7 separate regions of the Homo sapiens genome follow, and regions 2, 3, 4, 5, 6 and 7 are each linked to region 1. Evidence: fine-mapped expression QTL. A gene starts in region 1. Each other region holds a variant in brackets. All regions are shown on one strand. Distances are between the middles of the regions.

Region 1 (4,250 bases):
GACCTAAATGCAACAAATCAATCAGATTTTTCTCCTTGGAGTCCAAGGTTGACTAAATATCTTTACTATAACAGAGGATGACATTCTCAAAGAATGAATTAATTCTAAATTATGAACAAAAATATTTTACATCAAAAGACAGTTTTACTTCAAATAATATGTACTCACAGCTAAGTACAGTACTGTTACATATTAGAAGACCACCTTACACCATATTTCGCCACATTTAAAACGAGAGCTCCACTTCTGAAAACTTTGCTAGTGGAAACGAGACAATTTAAACTATTACCTCTTCCAGGTCTTGTTACATAAATAAGTGCAACCTATCTAAATTCCAATAATGAACAAACCCAGCTCTGGTCTCAAAGCTGGTGTTAAACAAACGGCATTTACATCACACGCTTCTCCTCCAAGAAATACAACTAGACAACCAGAAACATCCCAAGTTATAAGTTTTCCCACGACTCTAACCAATCAGCTGGTTCTCATATTTGTCAGCCCTATTAACCTTATGTCTTAAAATACATACATATTCTTATGTCAAATATAGTTGTTTCTAACAGCTACAGCAAAACCCCTTTCAATAGAGTATGCCAATAATAAAATAAGTATATACTTATGAAACCTCTCCAGTACGTAACACTTCATTAAAATTTCTGCCACAAAAATCTAATGAACACTACCTTTCCGGGGTTTACATGTGGGAAAACTTTGTAATATGCTTAGAGTATCAAGTAATATAACATGCAAACACAATGCTGCATTACTACAGAGTAACTGAAGAAAGTATTTCTCCTCCTCCAAAAAAAAACTCAATCATTCTCATCCGAAATACATATACACAGTACACGCAAAAATATACACCTGTCACAGACTATTAGTTACTATTAGTGTTCTGTAAACTTAAATTAGTTTGGAGAACTTAACAAAAGTTTAGCTTGTTAACACCTAAAAATCTCCAGCGACCAGCGGTCACATGCCTGAAAAGAACTTACTATGAACGCCAGTAAGAACTTTACCAAACCAAAACTACAAGCCACCGTATCGAGCAGTACTTAAATTCCTCTGCTGGTAAATGCTCCACAGCCATCACAGCCATCTCAAGTTCAACACTAAATAGTTTGAGAAGAGCTGCCGACGGGCCAGTCAAAAATCTTTGTGAACTGTCACAAAAGTCACAGAGCATGTGTCAGCTTTGCAGTCCAATTCAAAACATCATAGTGCCATCGAATTCAAGCGATTCCCAGAGCAAATTATCTCGAACAGCCTATGCAATTTACCAAAGTGCCAAGCAGTCCCCAGGGGTGCAGAGCAAATTATCATTTTGGTCCCAGGACCGGCTCCTCTTCACACGAGGATGAATTTCCCTACTTAGTGCCAACTGTACACTTGCATACTCCGAAAATAGGGGCAAGCCGTGAATACCAGAGGTTACAAGGGCAATGTTTTATTTTATTATGGGCTGAAGCTCAGAAGGCTCCCAATGCTGAAACGCTCGACCTATAACCCCGGAGTCACTTTCCAACTGCGCTCTCACCCAGGGTCATTATATCCCAAACGGAAGCCAATCATTACCTGTAACAAGGCCTGGAAAAAATAGCAAGAGGGCTTTAAAAGTTCACCTAAGAAACACCGAAACGGGGTGGGGAGTGGGTGGCGGGGCTTCGATGGATAAGGCCAACCTTAAAGCATCTCGGACTCAAACATTTTAAAAGCCAAAATACGTACAAAGACCCTTTTCCCTGGAAGACCCCAGGCAGAGAGAGGCACACAGACACTCAGTCATCCCGACAGCATGGGGTGCCAAGGGTTCCCTAAGACCAGCAGCCGGGATCGAAGCTCCGATGTGTCCGGGGAAGGTCTGGGAAGCCAGGCCAGGTCCGCATTGTGGCCGGGCGGTGCACGCAGCCCCTGCTCCCGGGCCCCTTTCTCTCCCCCTCCCCACGACCAGGCCTCTCCCCGCTCCTCTCCCCTTCTCCCTTCCTCCGTCCCTCCCCTCCCCCTAGACACATACAACAAGGCCACCTCCCCCCGAACCCCACCAACTTTCCAGTGCCCCCACTCTTCCCACCTCTCAGGAGCACACAGAAGCTGCAGGCCAGGAGGCTCCTCAGGACGGCCCCCATCTTCCCTTCTCGCGTTCTCTTCTCTCACCGGCGAGGGGTGGCCAGAAGTGGGGGAGGCGAGGAGCCGGGGCGGCCGCCGCAGCGGCAGGGCTGCACGCTCATACTTCCCAGCTTCCCAGCGAGAGAAGAAAGAAAGGGGCACGTCAAGGTTCCGCGCGCGCCGCCGCCGCCCTCTCTACCGCGCCGCTCGGCCCCGGGCTCGCGCGACGCCAGCGTCTGCTTCCATCCCGCCGCCTCCTCCCCCGGCGCCCCGCTTCCCCCGCGCAGCTCCTCATTCAGCCTCTGCCTCGCGCAGCGGCGCAGGGATACGGTCGGCACCGCCTCCTAGGGTCGCCGCGACCGTGTCCCTGCGCGCAACGAGCCCCTTCTCCCGGTACTGCCTCCTGTACGGCCAGGGAAGGGAGTCGGCAACCGCACGCACAGCCTCTGCCTGAGACCCTGGGAGAGGTTCTGGGCTAGCAGAGGCGAACTGGGAGGGAAAGCCTCCTCCCGGTGGCGCATTCCAGCGGGATTCTTTCCCGGACCGGCCGCTTCGGCCCTCCCCGCGGAGGGCGTGAGGCGGCGTTGAACAACATTGGAGCCGGCGTGGTCGGGACTACTTTCTGCGGCTCGGCCGGGCAGCCGTCTGCCCCGCTCTTTGTGCGGCCGCCGCCGGCAGGGCCAGGTGGGGCTCCGGTCTCGCGCCCCCAGCCACCTGAGACTGCCCAGCCGCGGTGCACGCGCGGGGAGCCACGGCGGATCCCGTTGCGGGGTGATGAGCTCCGTCTTCGGGGTTGGAAATCGGTTTCAGCATCCTTTTTTTGGGAGGGCGGAATTTTTGAACGCTGTTTACACCGGCTTTCAGCGTGGATCTGGTGAACGATATTAAAACGCCAATTCAAAACTGAGATTGTCATTTTTCTCCCGCCTTCCCAGAAATACAAACTGCCCCCAGAATTAAGCCCGACCAGCTAAAGATTTCTAAACTGGCAGATAAAATTCCAAGATAAATGCCTCAAAACCTAAGAGCAAAGGGACAATTGGACAAGACTATTTAGGATTTTACAAGTTGCATATAATAACGAATGTTTGGCATGCTTCGATTATCAATTCTCAGCTTGAGAAGGAAAAGATTCCCTAGAATCTCAGACTGTGCACAGCCTCTGCTACTCCCAGTGCATTGGGCATTCAGGAGTAATGGCCCAGACGCCCCCTGAAATCACCTGCCAGGCTTTCGTCTGGGCAGAGGCGCTCCAACAGTTAACCCTAATGGAGCCATCAGATGCATCCTGCCCAGCTGTCACACGCCCTTACCTGGAGGCAGATGGGCAAGAAAGTGGAGCTGCTACCACAATGTTAACAAGTACCTCAGTGACATTGGAGTTCACTAGTGCTTGAACACAAGTTATCATATTTGACACTCAAAACTACCCTGGGGAAAGGCAGGTTTTGTTACTTATTCTTTATTGCACAGAGGAGCAAAATGAGAACCTGAGAGGTTAATGACTTACCCAGGGCCACTCAAGTAATGAATAGCAGTACCTCAGCCCAATCCAGGTCTCTGACTTAAGCCACTCCGCTCCTTCCAAGAAATGCGCGCTGAACCAAAGGTGCTGCAGGTTTGTAAGTAGATGGACAGCAGAAACAGCCAAATCACTTTCTCCCAAATTCACCTGAGGTCTAGTCACCGTTTATTTAAATGACCTGCTTCTAAGAACCAAGTGAGTTTTGTATTCTGGCTTCCTCAAAGCAGGAAACTGGGCCGGGGGCGGGTGGCTCAGGCCTGTAATCCCAGCACTTTGGGAGGCCGAGGCGGACAGATCACGAGGTCAGGAGTTCGAGACCAGCCTGGTCCAACATGGTGAAACCCCCGTCTCTACTAAAAATACAAAAAAAATTAGCCGGGCATGGTGGCACACGCCTGTCATCCCAGCTGCTCAGGAGGCAGAGGCAGGAGAATGGCTTGAATCCAGGAGGCGCAGGTTGCAGTGAGCCGATATCGCGTCATTACACTCCAGCCTGGGCAACAGAGCAAGATTGCGTCTCAGAAAAAAAAAAAAAAAGAAAAGAAAGTTAACCTTCACTTTCACAGGCCCCTTCCAATGTCTGGGGAGGGGCCTTTATGGTATGTTCACATGGTCCTAT
Region 2 (4,250 bases), 170 kb before region 1:
CCCAGATATCCCTTTTAGAAACAATATTTGTTGAAAACCCGCTTGGCTTATCATTCCTCTAGGACAGAACTAGAGGATTTTCAAATAAATATTTTGTCCCTGCTCACTCAGAAATTTCCGTTTTCACATGACAACCAGCATATTAACAGACATTGCAAGAATGCTTTAAATGAAGATGATATATAGCTTTTTGATATGAGCCCTGATTTTTCAAAAGCAGAAGAGGCAGCATTGATTTTGTTTTAAAGGCGTGGTAGTTCAAAGGAGGTAAAGCAGAGAGATACCAGGTTCAAGGGAAGGCCGGGAGGTAAAATCAATAGGGTAGAATAATGGGAAAGAAATCAATGAATTGGAGTTTTTTTAAGTGAACATTGCATGCAAGGGAGTCTTCCCTGACCTCCATGCTCCCGTAGCATCCTGAAAAATGACTCGCATTTCCAAAGCACCTCTTCTATGTCCAGCACTATAAAGTGTTCAACTACCCTATAGTATAGGGCCAAGCACAGTGGCTCACACTTGTAATCCCAGCTCCTGGGGAGGCCGAGGTGGGAGGATCGCTTGAGGCCAGGAGTTTGAGACCAGCCTGGGCAATATAGTAAGCCTTGTCCCTAAAAAACAATAATAATAAAAGTTTCTTAAGAAAATGAAGGCTGGGTACGGGCACAGTGGCCCACACCTGTAATCCCAGCACTTTGGGAGGCCGAGGCAGGTGGATCACCTAAGGTTAGGAGTTCAAGACCAGCCTTACCAACATGATGAAACCCTGTCTCTACTAAAAATACAAAAATTAGCCGGGTGTGGTGGTGTGTGCCAGTAATCCCAGCTACTTGGGAGGCTGAGACAGGAGAGTTGCTTGAACCTGGGAGGCGGAGGTTGCAGTGAGCTGAGATCGCGCCTCTGCACTCCAGTCTGGGCAAGAGAGTGAGACTCCATCTCAGAAAAAAAAAAAAGAAAGAAAGAAAAGAAAAGAAAATGAAGACTGGGTGCAGGGACTCATGCCTGTAATCCCAACACTTTGGGGAGGCTGAGGTGGGTGGATCGCTTAAGCCCAGGAGTGGGCAACATGGCGAAACTCTATCTCTACAAAAAAATAGAAAAAAATTAGCCAGGTGTGGTGGCATGCACCTGTAGTCCCATCTACTTGGGAGGCTGAGGCAAGAGAATCACTTGAGCCCAGGAGGCAGAGGTTGCAGTGAGCTGAGACCACACCACTGCACTCCAGCCTGGGCAATGGGAGTGAAACCCTGTCTTAAAAAAAAAAAAAAGAAAGAAAACAATTACCCTATAGTATCAATACTATCACCATCCTAGTTTAGAGATGACAAACTGAATCTGAGAGGTTAATTTCCCCAAGATTGCATAGCTAAGTAAGAGGTGGACCCAGGGGTTTGAGCCAAGACAGTGATTCCTAAGCTTCAGATCCTGTCCCTTACACTACTTCTAGCAAAGGACATCACATTTTTCTGCAATTCCCACTAGACTGTGAGCCCTTTGAGTGAGGACCCGCATCTCAGTCATCCATACTACCTGCCCATTATAAGTGCTCAGGAAATATTTGTTAAATGTCAAATGAACTGACTGTTCCATTTTATACATGTATTTGTGCTGATGAAATGAATTCACCGAGCAGTACATGCCCATTCTGGTTCTGCAGGACACTGCCTTCATCCCCATTCCCTTGGTTGACACCAGCATCCAGGGTTTTCCACAGGATGGTTTGATGGCCTGCATTTGAGCTAAAGAATGAACTTCTGTCTGCCTCGTGGAGCCAAGCTACTGTACTGAGTGCTTATTCTTTTGTACACAGCTGAAGAAAGATAAGGCTTTGATGGGCCACTTCCAGGATGGGCTGTCCTACTCTGTTTTCAAGACCATCACAGACCAGGTCCTAATGGGTGTGGACCCCAGGGGAGAATCAGAGGTCAAAGCTCAGGGCTTTAAGGCTGCCCTTGTAATAGACGTCACGGCCAAGCTCACAGCTATTGACAACCACCCGATGAACAGGGTCCTGGGCTTTGGCACCAAGTACCTGAAAGAGAACTTCTCGCCATGGATCCAGCAGCACGGTGGATGGGTAAGCGTATCCTATTTAAAAACAAATTTTCTCAGAACTCAGAAGAGATGGGATGGATTTTTTTTTTTTTTTTAAATGAAGGGAACACATCTATGAAGCAGTTCTCATGAGTTTAGGACACTTGAGTGGCCAGAGATAGATCCCATTGATGGGAACATATTTTTAGTGATTATCTTCATCATCAATAAATATTTACTGAGCTCTCCAAGGGTATGCAGGGTATGTGTGGATGGA[A/G]AGGGACTGGTCAGATGGAACAGGAAATGAGGAGATGCTGAGATAAGAAATGTTTAGATAGACGTAATTTCTGTTTTCACAAATTTTGCAGGCAACGGAAGTCTGGCAGGGAGACAAGGGCAGGCAGACAGTTCCTCACACTTGCAGATACTTAGAGGTCACGGAGACTAAGCCTCATGCAGAGACTCAGGGTTCATGGCATTTTGTCATTGCTGCTTTGACCCAGCCATTTTGAGGGTGACATTTTGATACCAAATAAAAAGCCAACAGTTAAACTTTCATCTATTTTCAATTACCTGGTATCAGTCAAAACAGACCTCTTTCCCTTTTGCCTCAAACCCTCTCCCATCCCTCATCCCCAGTTCCTCAGGTCTCCTTAAGACTGCCATGTTCAAACAGCTACATAAGGTCCACCGTGTCAAAATGTACTACCCCACAACTTTAACTCTCAACAGGCCTAGGCATTCCTAGGCGGACAGACCTTCATCCCACATTATCCTTAGTTCTCTTTCCACTAGAATGGTCCAGGGGCCAGCAGGAGGATTGAGTCGGCTCTAGGCATGGCTGGAGTGACCCTGGGACCTCCACACAGCCTTGGTCTCTTTGCTGATGGAAGGAAAGTGCAGCTGATCTTGCCCAAGGGTCTGAAGTGCCCGCCATGGTCTTCAGTGGCTGCCACGGTCTTCAGTTTCTGTACATTGAGTTCCTTTCTATTTTCCACTTTTGCACCAAGTTTGATAACCCTAAGTGGCTGATCTGAACAACCAAGGCCATTCTTAAGTATTCTAAACTTAAGCTGCCTTAGCTTATTCTAAAAGGAGGACAGGTTCCTCAACATTATTTTAGTTCTACCTATTCTTCTTTCCAGGATTCCTTCACCCCAACAACCCCCTTGAGCCCTCATCTGCCCCAAAGCCTCTCCTGACCCTTCCAGCTCAAAGGCTGCACAGTCTCTAATCTCCAGCACTTCATGTTTGCACCATAATAATATACAAAAGATGATCAAATTCCCAATTGACTATGTTTCAAGCATTCATTTTAAAAATCATTGTTAGTCCTCTTAATATATTTTCTCAGAGAAATTATAATTATCAATTGGGTTCACAGGCTAGCTCTCAAAAATCTGTTTAACCCACTAATGTAGCTAAAATACCATAAATATGCTATTAAAAAGCAGTGGTTCTACACCAAAAGCACAAGCAACAAAAGAAAGAATAGATACATTGGATTTTGTTTTGTGCTTCCAAGAACACCACCACCAAGAATGTGAAAAAAAAAAAAAAACAACCCACAGAATGGGGAAAAATACTTGCAAATAAAATCTCTAATAAAAGACATATCTAAATACATAATGAACTATTATAATTGAACAATAAAATGTCAAATAACCCAATTTTCAAATGAGCAATGGATTTGAATAGACATTTCTCCAAAGAATATATATAAATGGCTAAAAGCACATGAAAAGACGCTTGTTTGACATCTTCATTTCAACAGTAGGAAAATGCAAATCAAAGCAACATTGAGCTCTATCCACTACAGTGGCTAAAATGAAAAAGAAAAGCATTGACGTCGGTGAGGATGTGGAGAAATTGGAACCTTTTATGTTGCTGGTTGGATTGTAAAATGGTGCAGTCCCTTTGGAAAACCACTTGGGAGTTCCCAAAAATGTTAACTATGAAGTTACCAATTCCAGGGGCCGGGCGCAGTGGCTCACGCCTGTAATCCCAGCACTTTGGGAGGCCGAGGCGGGTGGATCACGAGGTCAGGAGATCGAGACCATCCTGGCTAACACGGTGAAACCCCGTCTCTACTAAAAATACAAAAAAATTAGCCGGGCATGGTGGCAGGTGCCTGTAGTCCCAGCTACTCAGGGGGGCTGAGGTAGGAGAATGGTGTAAACCTGGGAGGCGGAGCTTGCAGTGAGCCAAGATCGCGCCAC
Region 3 (4,250 bases), 57 kb before region 1:
GTGAGCCAAGATTGCACCACCGCACTTTTGAGATTCCGTCAAAAAAATAATAATAATAATATTAATAATAATAACGCTTTCAGTGGCAGGCATCACGAGGGCCATTATCTAACTGACTCTGGTGGGGGCAAGCAACAAAATAGCAAACTAGCCAGAAATCTAACAGGAAGATCCTAGGAAAAAGACTGCCAAGAAGAGCCTTAAGTGGATATTCATGCTTAGTAGTCAGGAAGGCTGTCTGCATGTGTAACGCTACACCAGAAAGAACACTTGCAAGCTAGTCTCTGGCTGAACATGGGTCAAATTTGAAATTGCCTAAAATTTTAAGACATTCTCCAAACCATAAACAGGTCCACAGGAAAATGGGGTAACACTAACTTGCTGGTGTTCAGGAACAACCTTTAAGCAATCATTAGCTGACCACTAAGATAACAGTGACACAGAGGCAATCCCCCAGAAAGCCAGGCATAAGAAATATTTTAAAAGGAAAACAGACCACAGAAGTAATCCAGGAAAGTCATTAAACAAAAACACACAACAATGGCAACAAGCCCAGGGAGCGGTCAGAATCCAGAATCCAGTCAATATAATATATTCATACAATGGAATACTATTCAGCAACATAAAAGAACTACTTATCAATGTCAAGGATGACTTTTTAAAATTATGTTGAACAAAAGAAACCACACATAAAAGAGTACCTACTACGTGATCCCATTATATGAAGCTATAGATGTAAAATCAAAAAGACTAATCTATGATGATAAAACCAGATTCACAGTTACTGGGGAGGAGTAAGGGATTGACTGTAAAGGGGCTTAAGGCACCTTCTGGAGTAGAGTAATGAACGTTTGTCTTAGGTGTATTTATCAAAGCCCATTTAACAATCAACAAAAAAATATGAATTTTTTGCATGTAAATTCTAACTCAGTAAAGTTGCTTAAAACGTGAATAAGAAACATAAACTATTTCAAGAAGTTAATTCAAAGGTAACTTTTCTTAGAAACCTTTCCCAGCTTACTAAGGCAAAGTTATTCCCTCTTCTGAGCTCTTGGCAGGTTTTGTTATATACTATAGTACTTATCAGAGTTTGTAGATAAACTATAAAGAACTCAAAGGTAAAGACTAGGTGTCACTACCACATCACAATGACTGGCACATTGCACGTATTCTTTTTTAAATAAAGATGAATCCAGACCTTGTGCTTTCCATTTTCAATTTCTCCTCTAACCCCCAACTCAGTGCACACTGAAATGGGTAAAGGAAGACACATGAGATGCTACAAGAAGAGAAAGAAGTACAAAAGGTTAATAACCTAAGCATAGGGACAGCCAGAAACAGTGAAATGGTTTTGTGTGCCTATGTCTATTATAATATATGAACTAGATTTCTCCTCAGGATATCTTTAATACACAAATCAATTGATATTTCCATCTTGATAGAGTAATACAGTTAAAAACAAGTCCACAGCACACTTCATTAGCCACCTCCCATCTTTTCTCTATTAATGCATAAAATGAAAACTACCAGTATCTTTAAACAAACAAGTGTAGAGAAATAAGAAGTTACTCTCACTGCAATATCTACTAATCTATACTCTGCGCCGTGTGTGCAACATGCATTACTTGAGATTACGTGATACAAAGTTTGAAATGTTGCCATCACAGGCTGGGCTGACCAGAAGCAATTTGCACACTATAAAGACAGAAAATGCAATAAGGGCTATTGTCTTTCTTGTACAATATAATTTAGGTAGGTTTCCTAACTGTAACTAATCTAAGCATTTAACTTTGTAACTCAGTGTCTAGTTTATGGTGAAATAAAATGTTACAAATGAGTGAGTCAACCTAACAAGATTTTAGTAATGAATAAAAGTATTTGCATGCCACTATGTACCAAAGCTAATGGATAATCCCTTCATTATTCAACCCTAAAAAATAAATCAAGTCATGTTTTTTCAAGGATAAGACCCAGATAAAGATTCCAACTACAATAAGTGAAACTAAGGCATTTGTCAGATGAGAACTTGACGAAAATTAGCATTTTTAAATAGATTACAGATGTGCCTTCATTTGTGCAAATATTTAAAATATAAAGGAATAGATTTCATCTATAAATACTAAACATTTTCATTAACTTTTAAATTAAAAAGCTCATTACAAATGTAACCGAAAAAGCGATTAGGACACAGAAAATTTTTAAAAAGTATTTTTT[A/G]AGTTACCAATATATTATTCAATTTTCTTAAGGTTTTGAACACCTATTAAAGCGGTGAGCACCTATTAGGAGCTAAGCACCATGCCTGATACAGGGAATATGAAAATAAGCAAGGCAAAACTATTGCCCTTACGAAATTCGCAATGTAGACAAGGAGTGGCAAGTATATTGAGGAAGGTATAAACAGGAGGCTCTGAGAGTATAGAGAAGTGACACCCAATCAAGTCAATGAATGTAAGAGTTGTCAATAAAATATACCAGAGAAAGTATGTATTTTACTTAGGCAGTTGCCAAAATGGGAAATAGTGTTCCAGGAAGAGGACATAGCATATGAAGTCATGATATATTCAATAAACAGCAAGAAGATCCATAGAGCTGTAGCATATCGTGAGGTACATTGACAATGAAAGAAATCCCACGTGTATTATTTTACTATACTAAGAAACTTGGACTCCAGTGACAATAACATTGAGGGACTGGCTAGAGGAAGAAGAAACAAGAAAAAGCCAGAAAACTGAAATATTCCAAATAAGAACTAATGAAGGCAACAGAAGTTGAGGACTGGATCAATATGAAAGAGGAATGAGAAAGGATAGACTAGGATGGCTCCCAAGATTTACAAATGTGAATGTGTGTGTATTGGTGTCATTCAACATAATATGGAATTAGATGTGGTTTGGGAGAGCAAGATGATGAGTTCAAATATGGATGAATTGAAGCATCCTCACCTCATTGTTTTTCCTTCTGTATCCAGACCACCAGTCAATAGAATAACAGGAAAATCAGTGTAAAAATAAGTGAAAGTTGGTTAGAAAAGGTAAATAAAGTAAAAAGCATATTAACAGTCAAAGAAGTTGGTCTACAGTAACAGGGCAAAATAAATCACAATTACGAGTTGCATATGAAACTAAGTCAATCCAGAAGTGTTGAGCCATGCTAATTCTAAGAACATTAATGTGACACATGTAAGTAACTCTGAAAGGACCTATAAAAAGCCACAGGTCCTCAAAAACATTTTGTTGCCATCAAATTTATTTTGGGGGAAACTTCAAAAATCACATACATCATTATCAAATTGAAAATGCAGCCAGTGAAAATAGTTCTGATTTTAATGTGAAAAAGAAAAGTGTTGTGTAAAATTCACACCCTTCCTGTTACTAACCCCTGAACTTGATTCCTGACCCCATGTTCCTCTCTTACTCCGGTTAGTAGATTAGGCTTTAAGTGAAGAGGAGTTTGAAGAATTTACGGATTTCTGCTTCCTAATAGAAGTGAAAAGAAAAAAAGAATTGTGAAGAAATCGGACCTACTTCTGCACTTCCCCTCTACTTGATCATGTGTTGGTATCATATTTTAAAAACAAGTAGAAATTAATAAAAGAGGATAGTGAAAGCATTCATGTTAGCAGGTTGGTTTCTGTGGTTGTTTTTACAGAGAATATACAGTAACCAGATAAAAGAGTCTGGGCTGGGTGCAGTGGTTCACACCTGTAATCCCGGCACTTTGGGAGGCCAAGATGGGCGGCTAATGATGTCAGCAGTTTGAGACCAGCCCGGCCAACATGGTGAAACCCCAAACCCCAACTTGACTAAAAATACAAAAATTAGTTAGGCGTGGTGGTGGGCACCTGTAATCACAGCTACTTGGGAGGCTGAGGCAGGAGAATCACTTGAACCTGGGAGGTGGAGGTTGCAATGAGCCGAGATCGTGCCACTGCACTCCAGTCTGGGTGACAGAGCAACACTCCGTCTCAAAAAAAGAGAGTCTGGAATGGAATTAGATAGACATGGTTTGGGACGGTAAGATGATGAGTTCAAATACGGACGAACTGAAGCATCCTAACCTCACTGTTTTTCCTTCCGTATCCAGAGTAGGGATGGCTTTGTCATCCCATGTTTTTACCTGTCCCTCAATAGGGATAATAATTCTACCTAATTACTTGCTTGTGACAGTATGCATCATCATGAAATTCTGAATGTATAAACTGGTTGCCCTGGAGAAAATAAGAACCTCATGAACAGCCTTAAGCACCCAGT
Region 4 (4,250 bases), 34 kb before region 1:
AAGTAAAGCAAGTAAACATATATTAAGTTTTCAAGATGTCACAATTTCTTATGCCAGGAAAATAAAAATATCTCAAACTGATAATAAGACTAGACACACAAGCCATTTTATACAAATTTACTTTATACATTTTTATTACAATCCAAAGCATTTAATTTATTTGATTAGGTAAGGATAAAACAACAAATCTTCCAAAATATTCACAAGCCCTAATTTGGTAAGTATACTCAATCTGAATTCGGCTTCCCATAATGAAAATGTTCAGTTTCAATAAATCTAGACTAAAGGGATGAAATTTCACCCTTTACAAGATGTAATTACATACACAGGTGACTAATTAAGACATTGAGACTTGAGCTATAAAAACTAAGTGACCCAGATCTATACTAGATCATAAATCATGTCATGATCCTTGAAGTTACTTATATAATCCTATCCATAATTAAAATAAGTCATTAATATACATATTAGCAAGTATGAATAATCCTCAACTATCATGCACATGGTACATGAAAGAATAGACAATATTTTAAAACATGTAAGTCAGAGTTTCTATTCTGGTAATATGGTAAAAAGACAACCAGAAAATACTTCTTTTACAAAACATCTAGAACTACTGGTGAATCTTTTTATTTGATTTGTACATATACACAAAATAAAATATACAAACACCCCTTTAAATGTAGAACTTATCAAGAAAGTAGGAGAAATCTCCTGAGACCAAAAATGAACAGGAAAGTAAAAAGCAGTACATGGCCAGGCGCAGTGGCTCACGCCTGTAATCCCAGCACTTTGGGAAGCCAAGGTGGGCAGATCACAAGGTCAGGAGTTCGCGACCAGCCTGGCCAATATGGTAAAACCCCGTCTCTACTAAAAATACAAAAATTAGCCGGGTGTGATGGCAGGCGCCTGTAATCCCAGCTACTTGGGAGGCTGAGGCAGGAGAATGGCTTGAACCTGGGTGGCGGAGGTTGCAGCAAGCCGAGATCGTGACACTACACTCTAGCCTGGATGACAGAGCAAGACTCCATCTCAAAAAAAAAAAAAAAAAAAAAAAAAAAAGCAGTACATGTTTGACCTGATGCTATGACGACCCTGGATTTTCTGATTTCAGAAACTGAGAAACTTCTGTTCCAATGACAAGCCAGAGAAGATCTTGGCACACAAGACACAGTGTTAGAAGTAAGATTCCTGCACAAAGCATGGACTCTCAAAGAACAATGAAGTAGAAAGATCTGCCCACTGGCAGAGGGACACAGGAAGCCTTTTTTGTCTTGCCCTAGGCTCTGAAAAGGTAGGAAAGATCACCAAAGATTTCATAATCATAAGACTGCCCCTACATAGGTTTAGAGTTTGATTTATTCTATCCACATAGTACAGAAACTCCCAACTTCAAAAATTAAATATAAAAAATGACTTCTGCTTGAATAAGGCAATGATAACATTTGATAACTCATTTACCAAAACTCAAACTAAGCCGGGCACAGTGGCTCATGCCTGTAGTCCCAGAAGTTTTTAGATCAGCCCAGGAAACGGTTTTTTTTTTGTTTTGTTTTTGTTTAAACAACAACAAAAAAAACTCATGCTGAGCAGCGCAGTGGCTCATGCCTGTAAGCCCAACACTTTGGGAGGCTGAGATGGGCAGATCACTTGAGCCCAGGAATTCAAGTCCATCCTGAGCAACATGGTGAAACCCCATCTCTACAAAAGATATGAAAATTAGCCGGATGTGGTGGCACACACCTACAGTCCTAGCTACTTAGGAGGCTAAGATGGGAGGATTGCTTGAGCTTGGGAGGCAAAGGTTGCAGTGAGCTGAGACTGCGCCACTGACGAAGCGAGACCCTGCCTCAAAAAAAAAAACAAAAACAAAAACAAAAACAAAACTCAAACTTCACACTTGAGATCTGTGCAATTTACTGTATATAAATTATACTTTAAATAGTTAAGTGGTCGGCTGGGCACGGTGGCTCACGACTGTAATCCCAGCACTTTAGGAGACCAAGGTGGGCAGATCACGAGGTCAGGAGATCAAGACCATCCTGGCTAACATGGTGAAACCCTGTCTCTACTAAAAAATACAAAAAATTAGCCGGGCATGGTGGCGGGTGCCTGTAGTCCCAGGTTATTGGGAGGCTGAGGCAGAAGAGTGTCGAGAACCCAGGAGGCAGAGCCTGCAGTGAGCCGAGATCGTACCACTGCACTCCAGCCTGGGCGACAGAGTGAGACGCTGTCTCAAAAAAAAAAAAAAAAATTTAAGTGGTCACTGGAAACACTTCCAGTGAACTTGGCAAAAGCAACCCAAAATCTCTCTGGAGGAATATGCCCCCAAGTCATTCAGAATTCTCAAGGACAGCCTCTCTGAAGATCTGTTCACAGTCCAAAACTATATAAAACACTCGAGGAAACATTTAACCTTAAGCAAGAATCCAGCAGGTG[C/CA]AAAAAAAAAAAAAAACAGAAGTAGATTTTTAAGAACTTCAGAAAACTGAACAACTTGATAGAGATTATAAATATTTAAATGATGAAAACACATAAAAGATGGAATAAAATATATGACACAAGAAAAGACATCATCAAACAATAACATATCTCTAATAAGAAAATACAAGAAGCAATCCTCAGTGCATGCTAAAATAATCAATAGATGAGTGGTTAATAAGGAACTAGGTATTTGGCAAAATACAAAAGGATCATCCCACAAATAACTTAAGGACACAAGAGGAAAGGGCTCAACTTACAAATAAAGATAGTAACTTTCAGGCACTAGAGTCAAAAACCAAATATTATAACAAAAGATGCACCTAACATCCCAACTGCTCAGAAAATCTGACCATCTGAACCTACTGAATAATCTTAGCAACACTACAATATAGGACAACTTCTGATGTGACAAATACAAAGTACTCAGTACTACCTATGAGGCATTCATGTCAAAATGTTAAATCTGTCTCTAATCAAGTCTTCAAATCTTTCTTTCCAAGTAACACAGGGGGATAAAAATAAGTCAAATACCACAATAATTTGTTAGAAAAAAAAATTGTCTGGGCGCGGTGGCTCATGCTTGTAATCCCAGCACTTTGGGAAGCCAAGGTGGGTGGATCACAAGGTCAGGAGATCGAGACCATCCTGGCTAATGCGCTGAAACCCCGCCTCTACTAAAAATACAAAAAAATTAGCCGGGCATGGTGGTGGGTGCTTATAGTCCCAGCTACTCAAGAGGCTGAGACAGGAGAATGGCGTGAACCCGGGAGGCGGAGGTTGCAGTGAGCCAAGATCATGCCACTGCACTCCAGCCTGGGCAACAGAGTCAGACTCCATCTCAAAAAAATAAATGAATGAATGAATGAAAATAAAAAATCTGGGATATTCTATAGGACAGCTGACCCAGTCTTTTCAATTAAGTCAACAAGGTGAGAGATAAAAAGGGAAAGGGGGAGGACCAACTGAACTGCTCTAGAAAAACCACATACAACTTGTAAACCAAATGTTTGGACTCTGATTTCAAACAACCAACTATAAAGCAACATTTCTGAGACACAGATATCTGAGTATGAACAGACTAATTTATAACATTAAAGAATTGTTCATCGCAAGTTGTGTGAAAGACAGTGGCATTATGATTCTAGAAAAAATATTTTTTAGAGATGGAAAATAAAGTATTTACAAGTGAGATATCGATGTGTGAATCTGCTTTAAAATATCTCAGCTAATTAAAAAAAAAACCAGCCTAAAAGCCTACACATAGAGAGTAGTTGAATAAACTATGGTACACTCACACAATGGTATACTATGCACTGGCAAAAAACAATGAGGAAGATCTCTATGAAATGATATGGAATGACATTCAAAATGTTAAGTTTTGGCCGGGCACGGTGGCTCATGCCTGTAATTCCGGCACTTTGGGAGGCCGAGGCAGGCGGATCACAAGGTCAGGAGTTTGAGACCAGCCTGACCAACATGGAGAAACTCCGTCTCTACTAAAAATACAAAATTAGCCAGACGTGGTGGTGAATGCATGTAGTCCCAGCTACTCGGGAGGCTGAGGAAGGAGAATTGCTTTAACCCAGGAGGCGGAGGTTGCCGTGAGCCAAGATCGCACCATTACACTTTAGCGTGGGCAACAAGAGCGAAACTCCATCTCAAAAAAAAAAAAATTAGCAAGGCATGATGGCACATGCCTGTAGTCCCAGCTACTTGAGAGGCTGAGGCCAAAGAATCACTTGGACCCGGAAGGCGGAGGTTGCAGTGAG
Region 5 (4,250 bases), 62 kb after region 1:
TTTTTTTTTGAGATGGGCTCTCGTTCTGTCGCCCAGGCTGGAGTGCAGTGGCGTGATCATGGCTCACTGCAGCCTCGACCTCCTGGGCTCAAGTGATCCTCCCACCTCAGTCTCCCAAAGGGCTGAGATTACAGATGTGAGCCACTATGTGCCTGGCTAAGAGTAGCTTATTTTTATTTTATTTTATTTTATTTTTTTGAGATAGAGTCTTGCTCTGTCGCCTAGGCTGGAGTGCAATGGAGCGATCTTGGCTCACTGCAACCGCCCCCTCCCGGCCTCAAGCAATTATCCTACCTCAGCCTCCCAAGTAGCTGGGATTACAGGTGTCTGCCACCATGCCTGGCTAATTTTTGTATTTCTGTAGAGATGGGGTTTCACCATGTTGGCCAGGCTGGTCTAGAACTCCTGACCTCAGGTGATCCACCCACCTTGGACTCCCAAAGTGCTGGGATTACAGGCGTGAGCCACCACGCCTGGCCAAGAGTAGCTTTTTAACCTAGGTCAGTATCGTGTTGGTAAAATACGGAGAGAGGATGTTTGAGCAGAAGGACCTACCTCATCTTCTCACCTGTTCTAGGCTGCTACCTTCTCTTTCTACAAACCAAAGGAGGGGGCTCATAACTCAATGGGCCTTGTGGGAAAGGCTAACCAGACTAGTCACTGCTGAATTCCTCTAAGGGATTCCCCTACCCTGACTGCCCTTGCCACAGTTGCACCCACCATCCTAGGGGCAGTAAGTAGAGAGAGCTGTGTGAGAAGAGCACTCTTTCCACTCCAGATGTCCCCTACAACCTATATCCTCACGGCCACTAACAGTTTGGGCCCGTAGCATCACTCATCTGGACCGCTCCCATGTGGTCTCCCCATCACAACAAAGACTGCAGCAAGGTGGACAGAGAACTCCAAGAGAGCCAGGAAAATACCTTTATAAACCATCACAGAAAGCCTGATTTCCACTCGCTAAATCCATTAATAAAGAGAGGAGAAATTTTAAAATTCCAAGGCACCTGGTTACTAATCTGATTCTGGCCTACATGTGGATATTCAATAAATACTTGTTAAGTTAAATTGACTCAAGGTTTTATTTATTCAGCCTACTTAAAGCTTATGTAAACCCCTTGGAGATTTGTGTCAAGCTGTTAAGTTGGAAAATATAAGAAAAGTAGTATTTTCAATAGACCAGCTTTCCTCTTAATGTACTTTATGAACTTAGTGTAAACCAGGGAAATGGGGGAGGGGTACCAGAAGAGCAGAGGGGAAGGAGGTGAGGAGGAAGGAAGAGGTGAGGAGGAAGGAGAAGAAAAGCCTTTTCTGTCATTTCCTGCATTTGTCTTAATTGCTGTACTTATTAACCAGCTACTGCCCTCTAGTGCTCACTGTATTAAGTTCGCATCTGAATTCCATTTTTATCTTTAAAAACTCTGGTGACACTTGGAAGGGATCAAATTTCCTGTTTTGCAGATAAGCAAATTGAAGTCCAGAGGAAAGAGGTATCAAACTGACCCAGGGGACTTCTGGACTCTTTGTTACCTCACCTATAACTTGTCTGGAAAACTTTATTAAAAGCCTTTCTCAGAAATTTTAATTGGTAACCAGTAAAAATTGTAGCATCATGTTAGTGCTAGTTATTATTATTATTATTTTTGAGACGGAGTCTGGCTCTGTTGCCCAGGCTGGAGCGCAATGGTGCAATCTGGCTCACCGCAACCTCCGCCTCCTGGATTCAAACTACTCTCCTGCCTCAGCCTCCCAAGTAGCTGGAACTACAGGCGCCCGCCACCACGCCCGGCTAATTTTTTGTATTTTTAGTAGAGGCGGGGTTTCACCGTGTTAGCCAGGATGGTCTCGATCTCCTGACCTCGTGATTTGCCCATCTCGGCCTCCCAAAGTGCTGGGATTACAGGCGTGAGCCACCGCGCCTGGCCTGTGCTAGTTATTATTTCCAATGTTGTTCTAAATTAAGCTTAGACTGATTGCTGGTCAATTTAAGTAAGGATATAAAATAATAGTGGTACATTTTTAACTTAGTACAAGTTTAGAAAATGTCTATAATACTTCTTTAAAAAGTTAACTAGAGGCCGGGCACGGTGGCTCACGCCTGTAATCCCAGCACTTTGGGAGGCCGAGGCGGGCGGATCACAAGGTCAGGAGATCGAGACCATCCTGACTAACACAGTGAAACCCCGTCTTTACTAAAAATATAAAAAATTAGCTGGGCGTGTTGGCGGGCGCCTGTAGTCCCAGCTACT[T/C]GGGAGGCTGAGGCAGGAGAATGGCGGGAACCCAGGAGGCGGAGCTGGCAGTGAGCCGAGATCGCGCCACTGCACTCTAGCCTGGGTGACAGAGCAAGACTCTGTCACACACACACACACACACACACACACACACACACACACACAAGTTAACTAGAACAGATCCCAAGTGGATATGGCCATTTATCAGAACTGACTTATCATTGTCTCCATGTGGGCTAACATTCCGCTAGATTCTCCCAAGTGAAGCTCTTTGCTCACTGATGGGAAAAAGGGGGGGTTGTCATTTTAACGTGGAACGCATATTTTCACCACATAATCATTTTGCTAGTGGAAATAAATGGAAAGTTATCCAGCTGGACATGCTACTTATGAGAACACTACTGAGTAACAAAAGATTTATTCAAATATTTAATTGGAAGGAACTACATCTGGAATAAGTTTTAAAGGAATCCATATAAAAAGAAAAGCAAATCCATTAGAAATTGATATAAACAGTTGATTTTATCTGGAACCAAGAATGTGAATGAATTGGAACCTAGATGTCCTAACCTGTTTCTTTGCATAAAAGCCAGTTGAATTTTGAAATTTATATGGCAATTATACTTTATTACTTTACATAGAGCTTTGTTTTTAGCTAATATTTTAGAGACAGATTACCCAAAATTACCTAATTTGGTTCCCACTTCATTCCTTCTCAAAAACCAAACATAAAACAGAAGGGGGCCAGCTGTGGTGGCTCATGCCTGTAATCCCAGCACTTTGGGAGGCCGAGGAGGGTGGATCACTAGGTCAGGAGTTTGAGACCAGCCTGACCAACATGGTGAAACCCCGTCTCTACTAAAAATACAAAAATCACCCAGGTGTGGTGGCACATGCCTGTAATCCCAGATACTTAGGAGGCTGAGGCAGGAGAATCGCTTGAACCCAGGAGACGGAGGTTGCGGTGAGAGCCGAGATCGTGCTACTGCACTCCAGCCTGGGCAACAAAGCAAGACTCTGTCTCCAAAAAAAAAAAAGGAAAGCAGAAGGGGGCATTTTCCTGTCTTCAAAATACAACCTCCTGCTAAGACTAGCAAGTCAGCAGAAACTCATTGCATTTGGGCTTCTGGTTACTAAATGAATTAAGAGACACCGAGTTCCATCCTTAGATGTCCACATAGATCCCATTGATCAAATAATCCAGTCTTGAGTAACGTTTCCTGCGGAGTGATTCCGAGAGGATTCTACCCAGGAGGACGAGGCCTATCACCAGGAACAGGACACCAAAGAGCAGGGACCCGATAAGAAGCCATTTTTCAAATGGAAGGCCGTACTGATTTTCTGGAACACTGCCCTGGGAGGAACTGCCTGGACTGGCCTCCCTACCTTCCCAGGAAGCAGTTTTATTCATAGTGGAAGACTCCACATTTGACATAGAAAGTGCAGTAGGGTTATACACATTCCCTGTGTTCAAAGTTAGGTTGGAGATTTCTGTAAACGGTATGGTTTCTAAGCTGCCTTTCGAGTCCGTAGGTGCCTGAAAGGTGGTAGTCAGAACTGCTGTTGTAGCCATTGCTTGGAGTGTAGCCGCAGCCCGTGTAAAAACTGTAGAAATGAGGGTCGTGGGAGGCTGAGAAGTGACAGTGGTTACAGGTGGAGCTGTGGTGGCCAGCTGTGGCTGGGAAGTCCCAGAAGGTGTCACTGAAGCATTGGTGGGTAGAAGGGTGGCGGGCTTTGGAGTAGCCGAGGTGGTATGTGGAGAAGCAACTGCCACCGTAGCTGGGAGCGCACTCACATTTTCAGGCAGCAGATGAGCTATTTCTTGATCAGAGGAAAATTGTGAACTCTGAGAATGGCCTTTTTCCTTATAAGCAAGGAGCTGGGCACTTGCTTCATCCATCTTAAATAGTTTCTCCAAGTGATCTGAGGATCCAAACTTCTGAGAAAGTGTGTCTCTCCATGAGATATCGGTGGGCTTTGAATAATCTGTGTGATGATGGGCTAGGGGAGTGACTGCTT
Region 6 (4,250 bases), 87 kb before region 1:
GCAGGACTAATTTAGACGAAGAGCTGCACTCTTTCTTTAGTTTGCCAAGTATCAGATTTTACATCAACATAAGAAGAGAATAAATAACTATATGCTGTATTTCCTAGACGTGCCTATGTAAATAAAATGACAAAGGCTCTGATGTCCTAATAGTGAATTAGGACATCAGAATCTCCAGGGGAAATTATAAAGGGAGGTCTTCATGTATACAGAAGTAAATTTACCACAAACATCAATCTATAAAAAGGGGACAAAAAACAAACAGCAGTTGTGTTCCAGCAAACCTAGAAGGAGAAAGATGGATCTAAAAATAAGATTTATGGGTGACAGAGCCTTTGCAGATTAAAAGAACGAATGAATGAAGGAACAAATGAACGAATGAACGAATGAATGAAAAAAATTAAAAACAGGTTTAAGGATGCTGGTACCATACAGGGAAGAAGGAAAGAAGGGGTGACGGAGCCAATGACACCACTGTATGTATGTGTCTGTATGTATATATATATATATGCATAGCTCAAGAAAACATAACAAAGAGGCCAGAAAAGGAATTCTAATTTTAAAATCTACTGCACTCACTGCAAACTAGGAAAATAAATCCTATTTAATCAATGTTATATATTGTTATATAAAGTGTATTAATTTTTATTCTTAAAGATGGTCACTCAGAACCTCCATAAATTGTAATGTCTTTATCTGAATCCCTTCTGAACTATTTGTTATTCTGAATAAATTTCTGTATCTAAAGTATTATACCTAAAGTGAGGAAAATAAGACTTGAAATATTCCCAGTAAGAAACAAATGATTTTATTTTCAGGCTAATCAGTCAGTTATAGCAGACTAAGATGGGCAAAACCAAATACGGAATTTTAAAAACCCTACATGATAATAAATTTGGTGCATTCCCTTACGTAAATTTTCTTGCTACAGATATTCTTCTAAAACTTATGGGCTTTAAACTGTTTTCCTAAGCATACTCGTACCTATACACTCATGTATAGTTCATAATCCACAGGTGTGAACTAGATGGGATTAGGTAGGCAATCTATATTCAAGCTGACCAAAATGAAGCTAAAAGCCTGTCTGAAACATAAACTCATAACCTTTGTCTCATCAGCAATGCACTCCAACTGTTAAAAGATTCAAACATCAACTTGGATTTGAAAAGAGTGGGAGGCAGTGAAATACTAACAGGGAGAAAATTTATGGAGTCTATGCAAAATTTTCTATTAATGAAAACCAGCTGCAAGAACAACAGATGCCGTTTTCAGTATTTGAGCCTGGTGGAATACTAACGGGGTTTCTTCTATTCCAAGTTTCCATTTTGGAAGCAAGGCCTTGAAGTCATTATTCCCTCAGGGTCATGGGCACTCTACAGAATACCTTTCCAAAACAACTGTTCTAGAGTCTGAATTTTCTGTCCATTAGATGTGTACAGTGTCTCTCTGAAGAGCCATTTAAAGCCATCCTTGTATGTGAAGTTTCCCCCAAAGGAAAATTGAGACCTAACTCTGTTCTATCTATGTGATCCATAAGACCTGTAGCAAAGTCTAATTCAAAGTTGTTAATTTTAGACTTAACACCAATATCAGGGATATAGGCCACTAATAAAACACTGTGATAAAATATTAATCACTGATTATTTTCACCATAATCTATTTGATTGCCACAAACTTAACTCTACCACTTGGTAAATATTTTTTCCCAAGCTTTGGTTAATTAGTCTTGTTCCCACACAGCCCATAAATCAATTTTAAAATTGTTTGCATGTAACCATCATAATATTTAATATATTCTACCATCTGCCCCAACACCAGTTAACAGCAATAAAAGATATAGATATAGATATAGATATAGATATAGATATAGATATAGA[TATAG/T]ATATAGATATACACATACATGTGGGCTTTGTTTTCCTAACTTAGGACAGCCAGTTCTTCCAGTATAGATCTTACATAATTTTGGTTTGCAGAAATTGCCCCTAGGAAATTCAGAAAGTGGCTTTACCCAAAATGAGGAAAATCACTTACATAAGCTTTTAAGACTAGAAACTGATCAGCAGCCATTTCTCATACCAATACATCTCTCCATCCTAGGATTATGTGGAAGAGAATATATTATCCCTAGAATCATGAAGGTTGAGTAAAATTTCTGTAAAAGGTACCTTTGGCACCCCAGACAACTGTTAAGAAAAAAGAATATCTGTACTCAAATCATTATACTGTCGACTCAAAACCCATTATAAAAGTGGCTTGAAAATGAAAAAGCAAAAAACAAACCTCAATCTTGTCTGTTTTGGCATCTCCCCAGTATATTTTGCCTTCATCATAATCCAAGGCTAAACCATTTGGCCAACCAAGAGAAGTGTTAACCAATACTACACGGTCAGAACCATCCAGAGCTGCTCGCTCAATTTTCGGAATTTCTCCCCAGTCAGTCCAATACATGTACCTAGAGAAGTATACAAAAAATGAGCTAAAAATAGATAATAAAATGTAACTTTCAGATATTCTAAAGGTGAGATCCATCCCTCCTATTACACTGGTATCATCAGTTAATGCCAAGGAAGGGGAAAAAAAAAAAAACATATGAAGAGGTGTTTAAGACATTTATCCCAGCAATATATAAGATTGTGGGAAATTTTCAGATCAGTGTGTTCTAGAGCCAATCCTGAAAATGCCTCCCAATAATGAGATTACAGTTTTACTTCTTTTTTTTTTTTTTTTTTTTAAATATTTTGTGTGCCCTTTTCCATGAACTTTCTCTCTCTTTTCCTTGATGGCTTGTCATCTCTCTGACACAAAAGGCTTATCCCAGCAGTATTAGTCAGATGGCAAACTGAATTCTCAAAATAACTATTTCTTCCTGCAGTGCTAAGTGATTCTTACGGCTCCTGGATGTTTAGATGGCTCTAAGGCATTGGTATATACTGAGGTGTAATTTGTCACTATGCTTGTCCTCAGAATAAATCTCAAAGTAACAAAATTGTTGAGTATGTAAAAAGTTGTACTTCCCTGGACTATGATCAGGGTGGCATGGCAAAACAAAACAAACAACAACAACAAACTAGAAGTAAAGCTGCATGGGCTGGCAAAGTTTTGGAAATCAAGTCATTCATGTATTTAGGGAAAAAAAAGTAAGCTATATTCTTACTATAAAGTACTGAAAATGGAATTAAAGCTTCTAGGGGAAGGGAAAGAGTTCTGAAAACAATTTCTTCCCACATTTTTCATGGTAATGATGCAATCCGAGCAAAATCTGCAGACAACACCCAAAGTCAGCAAACATGGACTTAATTTAGAAAGAAAAAATATCTAAGACATCCAAGGCAAAAAACTAGCAATTTTTAAACTTGAGATTGTATTCTAATCACCATATCCTAAAATAGACAGCCATTAAAGAGCTGTTTACTGGAAACCAATATATATGTCATGTTATCTTAGTCAATGTTTTCAGGAACCTGTGAAAAACAGAAACACCACACAGAATTTACTATCAGTAGAGCTTCTTACCCAACCATGGGATCTAACACAATAGCCCGGGGTTCCTCTAAGTCCTCTGAAATCAAGATCTTCCTCATGGTCCCATTGAGCCTTGTCACTTCTATTCGATCAGTGCCAGTGTCTGTCCAATAAAGATTTCGTGCAACCCAGTCCACAGCAATACCATCAGGATGGGCAATTTGAGCAGTGACCACAAACTGACTGCCAGATCCATCTATAAATGAACGGCGTATGGCCCTCACTTCATCATCAGTCCAGTAGATGTAGCCTTCCACAGGATCGTAATCTATGGCAATGGCATGACGGATGTCTTCTAACTGCAGAACAATGTCTGTAAAATCTGGTGTATCCAAAGAAATGCGTCTCAAGTCTGTCCTTCGAGCTAAAAGCAATAATTCTGTGGCACCTAGAACAACAAAGTGAAATGAAGAATACTTTGAAACCCAGAGGTAAAATTTACCTGCTCTAGATAAAGAATCAAGAACTGAAAAATAAATATAAAATATACATAAATTAACACAAAAGGATGTGCACTCTCTTTAGAGTGGAAATGGAAAGTAATACAGTGAAATAGAAGAGTCTACTCTGAGGTCAAGCTGTTTAATGGCTAACTCTCCAAATTAAGTTGTGATACATTCTATGGTTTCATTGGAATTAATCCAGCTATTTAAAAGTACAATGAATAATGACTATGTAATGACTAAGAAGCTAAGTAGCTCAGTATTAAAGGAGAAGGAAATGTAGGA
Region 7 (4,250 bases), 94 kb before region 1:
TGTGTTTTACAATTAAAGTACATCCTAATTCAACCTAGGCACATTTTAAGTTCTGCAGAGCCACATGTAATTAGTGGCTACATATTGCACTGTGCTGGATTAGAGTCTTCAGAGTGGTGACTACATACAGCCTATAATAAAATTAATTGGTTCCTTTTTTAGTTTACATCACTGTCCCCTCTATACCTGTCACCTTCAGGCTTACCTCAGATCGATCAGGCTCACTAAAGCTTCAAACAAATGTCTTTTATTTGGTCTTTCTTTCTTCCAAGCTATATACTATTTAATTCTAATATGAAGTTAAAATTACTTCACACACACACACACACACACACACACACACACACACACACGTCTTAGATGAAAAAAACTACTTTTTTTCTTCTTGTCACATTTGCAAGTTTACATATAAAACACTAGCTAAGAGGTTAGTTAGAAGGAGCAACAAAGACCTGATTCTTTCATTTATTTTAGGCTATGTCAAAAAGGAAGTATTAAGACCATAGATATATTATTAGAAAACCCATTTCTGCCATCTCCTTAGCCCTCCTGCTTAAGACACGCTGCAGTCTAGATCAGCCATGTACTAACAATGGTTAAAACTAGGTAGTTCATGGTCGTCTCTACTCTGCTTTCTATACTCTGACATTTTCCATAATTTTTAAAAAATGAAGAGAAAAAGCTAAGAAGCAAGTCCAAGGACACACAAATAATAATGATGATGATAACTGCTGTTATTAATAAATGCTATTATTGGCCGAGCGCGGTGGCTCACGCCTGTAATCCCAGCACTTTGGGAGGCCAAGGAGGGCGGATCACCAGGTCAGGAGATCAAGACCATCCTGGCTAACATGGTGAAACTCCATCTCTACTAAAAACACACACACAAAAAACTAGCCAGGCGTGGTGGCGGGTGCCCGTAGTCCCAGCTACTCAGGAGGTTGAGGCAGGAGGATGGCGTGAACCCGGGAGGTGGAGCTTGCAGTGCACCGAGACTGTGCCACTGCACTCCAGCCTGGGCGACAGAGTGAAACTCAGTCTCAAAAAAAAATAAAATAAATAAATAAATAAATAAATAAATAAATAAATAAACGCTATTATCATTTTTGTTAGTATGGTATAGAAAGGAATTATAAGGATCCTCCGAAGAGATTAAGGGATCACCAGCTTAAACAATATCTGACTGTGAGACTTTGCATCTAAACACACAGATAATGTATTTTCCTTCACACAAAGTCCAATTTCTGAAATGTTTCCTTCCATTACTTTTGTAGAGGTGACACTATTAGAAAACTGACTTCTCCACTAAGTATTTCTCTTGTACCAGCCACACAATCTTTTTCTACCGGGCACAAGTTAACCATAGTGAAATAAGAACATGTTGCTCTGTCTTAAAGAAATCACTATTCCATTTCTCATATTCCTGTAAAAGTTTTGGACAGGTTACTAGGTCTATAAATACAGTTTAAGCTCCTTATGTTTAAAATAACACAAATCCTGGCAAAAGCTTGTTTGTATATTCTGAACCCAGAACAAATGAACCACTTTAGGCAATTCCAAAAGATTACACTTATGCTTTAAAAACTGTGCCAATGTTAATTAAATCTGACAACTCTTAAGGGTGTACTTCACTGTATTACCTCAGAGTGGTTTAATTAGTTAAACTGAAATTAGGCTTCTGTCACTTCTAAAATCTAACTCCAAATCTGAACCAGAGTCTCCAGTGGTTTCAGCTGCTTTGACCACACTGTGGCACATTGGTTTAACATTCTGAAATATTCTAAACCACACTGAGAATATAGGCTACAAGAGGAAATAGACGTGGGTTAACCATAACATTATCTGCACAAAGAAGAAGTAATGGCAAATCTTCTACAGACATCACATCCAGTTTTTGAGTCATTTCATCAGCTCATTAAATGTCAAGACAGGACTGCCCATGCAATCTTGGAATGCAGCCAGTCTACTACCAAAATTGCTGCTATGCAACTTCACTTGACAAGACAAGTTCAAGGAACAGATGCAGGAGGACAACCAAGCAACCACCATAAAATGTGCTAGAGTTGGAATGCTATAAAGTTCTAGAAGAGAAACTCAAATTATGCCCAAAATGAACCACTCCTCTTCTAATGTTCCAGACAATATCCAAAACAAGCAGTGAATTAAAAGCTTATACATAAGGAAGACAGATATGACTGAGGGTTGGGGAGCATATTTTTTCTGATACAACTTCATAGAACATAAAATATAATTTCACACAAATGGGATTTTAAAACACAGAATATTTATCCACGGAAATAACATTTCAATCATGCCAAATCTCACTGAGATGACAAGTATAAAGAAATGCTTTGGACCCAGTAGGTGAAGTAAAGGGACACCACACACCTGTTTGAGAGAGAGGTAGGGGCAATTACAGTGCTATATTCAAAGCCTTTTAACCTACTTCAAGATACATTAAGTCTGAGTACATATAAGTGATTTTAAATATGAAAAGAATTGAAGTATCATAGTTACTCTGGGTAGTTTTATAATATTTTTTGCAAGGAATCAGGCATTGAATATTAAAGATTTGCAATTACTATGCTCTTTTTCTGTTAGAGCTAAAAATTGCTACTGTGACCAAAGCTTTCTAAAACCTGAATTACTCCAGGAAACGAAAAAATT[G/A]AGAACAGAGTTCCAGATGAAGGCATCATGATGACGAATGTCAACATCCTGGTCAATTATACTCAACTGCTTCATAAGACACTTCTGAAAGCCTCACTGTCCTGAGGCCCCAAAAACCTAATAGGGAAAAGATTAACATGTCAACAAGGGAAAACTGCCCTCTCTGCTCTCATTCTTTTTAAGCACAGCTAAAATAAATTCTTTTGTTTTTGGGGGGACAGGGTCTTGCTCTGTTGCCCAAGCTAGAGTTCAGTGGCATGATCTCAGCTCGCTGCAACCTCTGCCTCCCAGACTCAGGTGATCCTCCCACCTCAGCCTCCAGGGTAGCTGGGACTACAGTTGCACACCACAATGCCTAGCTAATTTTTGCATTTTTTATAGAGATGGGGTTTTGCCATGTTGCCCAGGCTTGTCTCAAACTCCTGGGCTCAAGTGATCTTCCCACTTCAGCCTCCCAAGTAGCTGGGACTCCAGGAGTGCACTACCACGCCCAGCTAATTTTTATTTTCTGTAGAGCCGGGGATCTCACTATATTACCCAGGCTGGTTTCAAACTCCTAGCCTCAAGGGATCCAGGGATCCTCCCACCTCAACCCTTCCAAAGTGATAGGATTACAAGTGTGAGCCACTGTGCCCAATAATCAACTAGCAATTTTCAAATAGGAATTCACAAATTTCATTGTTATGCGATGTACCCCAGACACAAAATAACACAACAGGCCAGCACCAGGTTTACAACTCAATGAACATTAAGTCCAAACTCCAGGTGCTCTGCTGAGTTGAGGAATCTAATGATGGAGTTTATCAATATCATTCTTCTCTGATCATATGTTATGAAGATTTGGGGAGAAATATATATCCATACTAACATACAGTACATGTTGTGTGGTAAAGTAGCACAAATGGGCAAATATTTAGGTATTTAAATTAGTTATTTTGAATATTTCTCAAACTGAAGTATAATCAATCTTTCTTTTTTTTTTTTAAGCAGAGTCTTGCTCTGTTGTCCATGCTGGAGTGCAGTGGCCTGATCTCGGCTCACTGCAACCTCCGCCACCCGGGTTCAAGCAATTTTCCTGCCTCAGCCTCCTAAATAGCTGGGATTACAGGCGCATGCCACCACGTTTGGCTAATTTTTGTATTTTTAGTAGAGACGGGGTTTCACCATGTTGGCCAGGCTGGTCTCGAACTCCTGGCCTCCAGTGATCAGCACACCTCAGACTCTCAAAGTGCTGGATTACAGGCGTGAGCCACCGTGCCCAGCCTCAAACTGAAGGTATAATCAATTTTAAGAAACACAATGTTACAAATTGGCAAAGATTCAAAAGGAAGTACTTGTTGATACTTGTCATATTATCAGAACAGCCTTATCTCAACAATAGATTTATTATAATTTCTTAATGAGGAATTAATCTTACAAACCAACAGTAAAAAAAATTATCAACAGGTTCCTATATGTTTTTAACAGTACAAAGGCTAAGATACCAGACAAAGAAACTCCTTTAAAAAAGAAGTTTGAATACTTGGGAAACAAATTTCCTTATTAGGGTATTGATGAAATAAAGGAAGTTATCATAGGAAAAT

What was found. PIP is the estimated chance that this variant, and not a neighbour inherited with it, causes the effect.
Region 2: its variant is fine-mapped to the expression of LRP6 in lung (TOPMed, PIP above 0.99).
Region 3: its variant is fine-mapped to the expression of LRP6 in whole blood (INTERVAL, PIP above 0.99). The same link has a PIP of 0.9 or more in T cells.
Region 4: its variant is fine-mapped to the expression of LRP6 in fibroblasts (GENCORD, PIP 0.95).
Region 5: its variant is fine-mapped to the expression of LRP6 in whole blood (GTEx, PIP 0.95).
Region 6: its variant is fine-mapped to the expression of LRP6 in whole blood (INTERVAL, PIP 0.99).
Region 7: its variant is fine-mapped to the expression of LRP6 in whole blood (TOPMed, PIP above 0.99).

What each region holds. Positions count from the first base shown.
Region 1 is chr12:12,264,610-12,268,859 of GRCh38, forward strand. LRP6 (LDL receptor related protein 6) reads right to left here and starts at 2,435. Exons shown (of 23, transcript NM_002336.3): 1 at 2,072-2,435. The coding sequence starts at 2,126. RefSeq lists a silencer at 2,126-2,435 and enhancers at 2,442-3,078, 2,616-2,665.
Region 2 is chr12:12,092,857-12,097,106 of GRCh38, forward strand. BCL2L14 (BCL2 like 14) reads left to right here. Exons shown (of 6, transcript NM_138723.2): 5 at 1,808-2,074. Among named protein-coding and RNA genes, the nearest start is that of MIR1244-4, 17 kb to the right of the region's middle. The variant A/G (reference allele first, on the strand shown) is at 2,309.
Region 3 is chr12:12,207,476-12,211,725 of GRCh38, forward strand. The region is part of intron 2 of LRP6 (LDL receptor related protein 6); the gene reads right to left. Among named protein-coding and RNA genes, the nearest start is that of LRP6, 57 kb to the right of the region's middle. The variant A/G (reference allele first, on the strand shown) is at 2,215.
Region 4 is chr12:12,230,147-12,234,396 of GRCh38, forward strand. All of the region lies in intron 2 of LRP6 (LDL receptor related protein 6), which reads right to left. Among named protein-coding and RNA genes, the nearest start is that of LRP6, 35 kb to the right of the region's middle. The variant C/CA (reference allele first, on the strand shown) is at 2,440.
Region 5 is chr12:12,326,631-12,330,880 of GRCh38, forward strand. It overlaps MANSC1 (MANSC domain containing 1), which reads right to left. Exons shown (of 4, transcript NM_018050.4): 4 at 1-4,250. The coding sequence ends at 3,397. Among named protein-coding and RNA genes, the nearest start is that of MANSC1, 21 kb to the right of the region's middle. The variant T/C (reference allele first, on the strand shown) is at 2,250.
Region 6 is chr12:12,177,530-12,181,779 of GRCh38, forward strand. It overlaps LRP6 (LDL receptor related protein 6), which reads right to left. Exons shown (of 23, transcript NM_002336.3): 6 at 3,514-3,910; 7 at 2,281-2,452. Among named protein-coding and RNA genes, the nearest start is that of MIR1244-4, 68 kb to the left of the region's middle. The variant TATAG/T (reference allele first, on the strand shown) is at 1,878.
Region 7 is chr12:12,170,480-12,174,729 of GRCh38, forward strand. The region is part of intron 7 of LRP6 (LDL receptor related protein 6); the gene reads right to left. Among named protein-coding and RNA genes, the nearest start is that of MIR1244-4, 61 kb to the left of the region's middle. RefSeq lists a silencer at 1,729-1,778. The variant G/A (reference allele first, on the strand shown) is at 2,668.